Regions from separate parts of the Homo sapiens genome. Here region 2 is linked to region 1. A link means that fine-mapping ties the variant in region 1 to the plasma level of a protein whose gene starts in the linked region. Region 1 holds a variant in brackets. A gene starts in the other region. All regions are shown on their forward strands.

Region 1 (2,911 bases):
TCTACTTACTTCCTAGCTCAAGCCACTCACTGGCCCCATCCCCATTGTTGGCTCTATGAACCACAGCAATTGTGTCCAGCAGCAAAAGCCATCCAAGGTGGAGTTGAGACATCCCTGAGGCCCTGGTGAGTAGATCATCTACTTTCCTCTATTCCTAGGCATCAGCATCATGGGTGTTGGGCTATTCCTGGATACAGACGCAGATCATTCGGTTTCTATCCAATATGACTGGTCAGAAGTGCCAAAGGCATGGCACAGGTGCATGGTTCCAAGAAGCCAGCATCCTTGCTCTGCCTTCCTGTGCCAGCACCGTCTCTAGGGTCCTTTCACACTGCTGCAGCCTGGGATATCTTTCTAAAACAAAGTCACACCATGCCTCTGCTCTGCTTGGAAACATCTGATGGCTCCTCACTGCTTTCCAGAAAAGCCCCAACACCTGAGACTGGCAGAACTGGGCCTTTGTGATTCATCTGTTTTATTTGCATTATCTCTCACCACAATCTTAATGCACTTCTCAAATGGCCTGACCATCTCCTGCCTCTGCACCTTTGCTGTTTCCTCTGCCTGGAAAGCATCTCGTGTCACATGTCGCCCCCCTGTGAAGCTCTTCTTGATTCATCCTGGGAGATGGCTGCTCCTTCCTTTGTATTTTACATGCACTAGACAGAGACTTACGGCAGGAGTCAGTCACCCTGCATGCACGCTGATGATATGTTTACTTTTCTCTGCCTCTTAAAGAAAGAGATGAGTCTTTACTTGTTGCATCCTTATAGCCTAGCAGACTGCCTGGTACTGTGCATATTTATTGACTGAAGGAATGAAACCCCAGCAGCTTTGAGCACCCATGCCCCAGACAAGGAGCATCACGTCTAGCAGAAGTAGAAAATACAGTCAGTTGTGTATTTATTGTAGTGAAAGTGTAAATCTGTTCCAATTATATAGACATATTGGGGATAATTTGAGTGTAATGTCAATTTCACATTTGGAAAACACTTAGTGAATTCAGAAGCCTGCATCCAGCTGAATGGAACCACATAGGAGAATACTAACAATGCTCCTGTGTGTACATATGCGCACCTCAAACATCCACCAGC[C/T]GCCTCGGTCCACTGTGTGCACTGGTAAGACACATCCATGCAATATGGAGTCACATCTTTTCCTTCCCATGTCAGATAACCCTTTCTCCACTGCTTCACAGTAACTCACAACCCGCAGCACTTCTGATGCCCACTTCCCTAGGCAAACTTGCCATATTTACTATTGTATAGCATTGATATATTTCTTAACTATTTAACGGGTATAAAACTCTGGTAATCTTTTTATTGGATTCTTATCTTTTAAAAATGTGTTGGCCGGGCACGGTGGCTCATGCCTGTAATCCCAGCACTTTGGGAGGCCGAGGCAGGTGGATCACTTGAGGTCAGGAGTTCGAGACTAGCCTGGCCAACATGGTGAAACCCTGTCTCTACTAAACATACAAAAATTAGCTGGGTATGGTGGTACGCGCATTAGCTAGGCATAGTGGTGTAATCCCCACTACTCAGGAAGCTAAGGCAGGAGAATTGCTTGAACCTGGGAGGCAGAGGTTGCAGTGAGCTGAGATCGTGCCACTGCACTCCAGCCTGGGTGACCAGAACAAGACTCCATCTCAAAACAAACAAAATGTGTCGCTGAGGAAGTTTTCAAGTGTTGTGCTTTTTAAAAAAGTTTATTTCAGAGACAGAGTCTCATTCTGTCACCTAGTCTGGAGTACAGTGGCGTAATCTCGGCTCACGGCAACCTTCGCCTCCCGGGCTCAAGTGATTCTCCTGCCTCAGCCTCCTGAGTAGCTGGAACTACAGGCGCCCACCACCACGCTCAGCTAAATTTTTGTATTTTTGGTAGAGACAGAGTTTCACCGTGTTGGCCAGGCTGGTCTCAAACTCCTGACCTCAAGTGATCCGCCCGCCTCAGCCTCCCAAAGTGCTGGGATTGAAGGCATGAGCCACTGCGCCCGGCCTCAAGTGTTGTGTTTTTAATCCTGTTTTTCCCGTAAGCCCTGTGGTTCTTATCACATGGCTTAGCAAACTCTGGTGATTTTTAGGCTGCATATGTCAGGTTATATAGACCCTACTGCGCCTGTGTGTTCAAAGACAAACATGACTGCCTTGCAGGAGGACCCCAGAGAGGAGCTGCTCAGGGTGCCATTCACCAGAGACTTTGCAGAAACCTGTGCTTCAGGGCCTTAGAGCTACAGCTCATAGAGCCCCTGGCGATTTAATTCAGCTCTAAGAGCTTCAAAAAATCATGGAATTCCATGATTCCAGAGATCAACTGGGCACCAGCCTCTAGACACTTTAACAATCTCTCTCTCTCTCTCTCTCTCTCTCTCTCTCTCTCTCTCTCTCTGCCATAACTCTCTGATGATTCTGGGTCAGTTAACTTTTGAGCCTTGGCATTTTTGTCTGTGAAAGGGGCACACAGATATTCCTTCTTCACAAGCCAGAATAATGAATGAATAAAATAATGTCAGAGATGCACTGGTTCTGCTGGGTAAACAGAAGAGCAATGTCAACAAAGAAAACAGGACCAGAATTGTTCTTTTAGTAAGAAGAAATGAGGAAAGTGGGGATTCCTGGGCAATGTGGGGCTCAGCTTGCCCACGATGTGGCTTTTGGCACTGAAACCTGGGGGTTCCTTTCACTGAAGTCTATGAGCTGCACCCAGAATCTGGTGGGATGCCTTTCACCCTTGACATTTCAGAGCCAACCTCCCATCCCTGATAATGCAGGAATGTTCCTCTGGCTGGTGGACCTCTGCCAGCGTAAGTGAGCGTCCCAGCCACCAACAGAGTAAACATTACTCAACTGGCTGGGGCTCTGTCACACACATTCTTCCCCTGTGTTTCTAACCTCATGCAGAGTGCAGCCCAGCC
Region 2 (2,911 bases), not on the chromosome of region 1:
AGGCCCATAGGACTTCCCAGCATAGGCCAAGGCCACTGCCTCATTTCCCTCGGCCCCAGGAATTTCTTCCTTTCTGGAGTGCTTCATCCAACTGGGTGCCCAGGCAGGAACCCCTAAGGGCCAATGAGTTGTCTGCAGAGAAGTTCTAGCAGTTCAGGAGAGGAGCTCACCTTAGGCTGGGGCTTGCGGCAGGGATGTTAGCAAAGGCTCCAGGAAAGAGGCCTGTGGTGAACTCGGGGCAGGGCTTTGGAGGGAGGGCTTTGCGGCAAGCAGAGGGGAGGTGAAGGCGTGGGTAGAGTACATCAGGGCAGCATGGAGAAGGCTGGGTGGCTTGGGGGAGGGTGGCGATGGGGTCATAACAAAAACATAAGAAGGTGGTTTGGGGCCAGGTGATGGATGCCTTGGGAACTGCTAGCCCAAGAAGTTTGGGCTTTTTTTGCAGGAGGGCAGCCACTGAGGATTCTTGAGGAGAGAGAGACCATAGAATGAATGAAAGAGTTGGAAAGACTTTAAAGCTCTGGGAGGCTGAATCCTTTATTTCGCTGGAAGAAAAACTGAATGCCAAGAGGGCCTCACTTTCCCCAAAGCTATACAGCCATCAGGGGCAATGCTGGGATTCCCCCATGGATCTCTTGACTCCTAATACAGTGCTCTTTCTGATATGCCATCTGGCTCCATAATGAACATTGTGTTCCAGGAAAATCAGTCTGCGCTGAACAGGATGGAATTGGGGCAGGACGTCCAGTGAGGAGGACATTGAGGCAGTAGAGCAGTTGATTGCCGAATGACCACCTACCCTGACTTAAAAGATCAACCTCAGGGAGGATTGGAGCTTTCTAGAGTCTCTTGGGACAGCAGAAGCACAGGCCGGGTTGGACTGAATCTTTAAGTGGACATGAGGGACAAAGTACCTCCTGTTGGTAAACATCTCACCACCAACCCACTGTGGTGGCTAAAATCCCACCTTTAGTCCCAGCAACATATGAGCATGTCACCAGGAGGTCTTCACAGGCCTGTCTGCCACCTGAGTGTAGACATCTTTTGGCCCTGGAGCCCAGAGAGGCTGAATGTGGAGAGGGTGGAGAGAGGTCTGTAGTCCTCAGAGAAGACTTGCAGCTTTTTCAGAGCCACCAACCCATAAAAAAAAAAATCCCCAAACAGAAAAATCCTAACTGTGGTGACCAGGTACCTCCTGAGACATGAAGCCTCCACTTACCTGGACCCTGGAGGCCTCTCCGGGCACAGCTGCCAATGTTGATCTTAGATAAGACCACCAGCAAGTAAACATCCACTGTGCAAAGCTGTGTTATCTTTGGGGAACTGAAATGTCCCCTGGGAGTTGGAAACTCCCCTAGCCACATACCACAGAGTTGAGGAAGGAAGAGCTGATGGACGGAAGAACCATGGCGGGAGGAGTCATCCGGAAGCTACCTCGCTGCCCTGTCAGTTACGGAACAGAGGAGAGATGCCGGCTGGAGGACACAGCAAATTTGAACCAAGAGGAGCTTGGAGGAAGCCCGAGCGACCTGGAGGGGACTGGCTGACCTTCCTCATTCTTTTCAAGTGTGAATAATAACCAAGCCCAGTTTGGCAACTCCTTGAGGGTGAGGACGAAGCCCCATTCTCCTTTTTGGAACTTGGTGGGGCTCAGGAAGCAGGTTCTCTCCAGTCGGTGGCTTTCCTTTCTGTTGCGGGTCTCTTGAGGGCCTGCCTTCATGAAGGCACATGAGTGACTCATCATTTGTGAATTAATTGCTATATGTGAAGGGCATCTGAGAACAAATTATCTTCATAGACTTTTCATTATAATTTTATTTGTACTGATAATTAGTTGGTTTAGCAAGCTCTTTTTTCATAGATTTGGCTAAACTTCAGTCTGAAAGAGGCAAATTCTGGGGTTCTAGAAAGAGATTTTATTCTTTGATATAGGGCTATTTGGTGGGGTTGCTTTTTGTCCTAGTTGTAGCTTTTATAATTTCGAGATTCACATTTTGCAATAGAAATATACAGGCATACCTTGGAGGCATTACAGCTTTGGTCCCAGACCACAATGAAGCAAGTCACACGAATTTTGTTGGTTTCCCAGTAAATATAAAACGTATGCTGATACCATACTATAGTCTAAGTGTGCAACAGCATATGTCTAAATGAATATACATATATATTTTTTTGAGACAGGTTCTTGCTCTGTCACCCAGGCTGGAGTGCAGTGGCACTATCATGGCTCACTGCAGCCTCCACCTCCCTGGACTAAGATGATCCTCCCACCTCAGGCTCCCAAGTAGCTGGGACTACAGGTCACACCACCACACCCAGTTAATTTTTGTATTTTTTGTAGAGACAGAGTCTTGACATGTTGCCTAGGCTGGTCTTGAACTCCTGGCTTAAGTGATCTGCCTGACTTTGCCTCCCAAAGTGCTGGGATTACAGATGTGTAGTCTTTGAAATCCAGTGTGTGTTCTTACAGTGCATTTCAATTTGGACTAGCCATGTTTCAAATGCTCAGCAGCCACATGCGGCTCATTCTAGATAGGCGGCCATCGCTCTTAAATCCTCCCTGACCTTAGCCATGCTCTCTCATCCCTCCTCTTCGCCAAGCTCTGCCTCTCTCACTGGGGCTTCCCTAGCCTCCGGCCATCTTGGGGCCAAAGCTCTAACACTTTGCCTCTCTCGTGTCTTCTGTTCCCCTCCAGTGGCTTCTGCTTTCTGCCTTAAAATACACCCAGGTTCCTAATCCTGAAAACGTCTGTTGTGCACCGATCCCACCCTCCCCTCGTGTTACCATCTCCATTTCCTTCCCCTTTCCTTGTGTCCTCTTCTTTGCTGTGTCCTGGCCCCTCAAAACTTGACCTTGCCTCTCATCCCCACTGCTGTACTGAAACTGTTGTCTCAGCGTTGCTGATCATCCAGC

Which allele goes with the higher level. Positions count from the first base shown, and alleles are read on the strand shown. Strength reflects both the effect of a copy and how common the allele is.
As copies of C replace T in region 1, the plasma level of the protein whose gene starts at base 1,322 in region 2 goes down (strong association).

Evidence for each region. PIP is the posterior inclusion probability: the model's chance that the variant is causal. The UK Biobank Pharma Proteomics Project read protein levels with antibody pairs (Olink). The fine-mapping took linkage between variants from a reference panel, not from the people measured, so its PIPs are less certain.
Region 2: GHRL starts here. The variant in region 1 is fine-mapped to the plasma level of the GHRL protein (UK Biobank, PIP above 0.99).

The regions. Positions count from the first base shown.
Region 1 is chr17:37,714,503-37,717,413 of GRCh38, forward strand. All of the region lies in intron 4 of HNF1B (HNF1 homeobox B), which reads right to left. LOC105371754 (a long non-coding RNA gene) reads left to right here. Exons shown (of 3, transcript XR_001752875.2): 1 at 1-125; 2 at 2,898-2,911. Among named protein-coding and RNA genes, the nearest start is that of HNF1B, 29 kb to the right of the region's middle. The variant C/T (reference allele first, on the strand shown) is at 1,095.
Region 2 is chr3:10,291,626-10,294,536 of GRCh38, forward strand. It overlaps GHRL (ghrelin and obestatin prepropeptide), which reads right to left and starts at 1,322. Exons shown (of 6, transcript NM_016362.5): 1 at 1,217-1,322. It overlaps GHRLOS (ghrelin opposite strand/antisense RNA), which reads left to right. Exons shown (of 6, transcript NR_073568.1): 6 at 443-1,824. RefSeq lists enhancers at 1,080-1,149, 1,160-1,409, 1,220-1,514.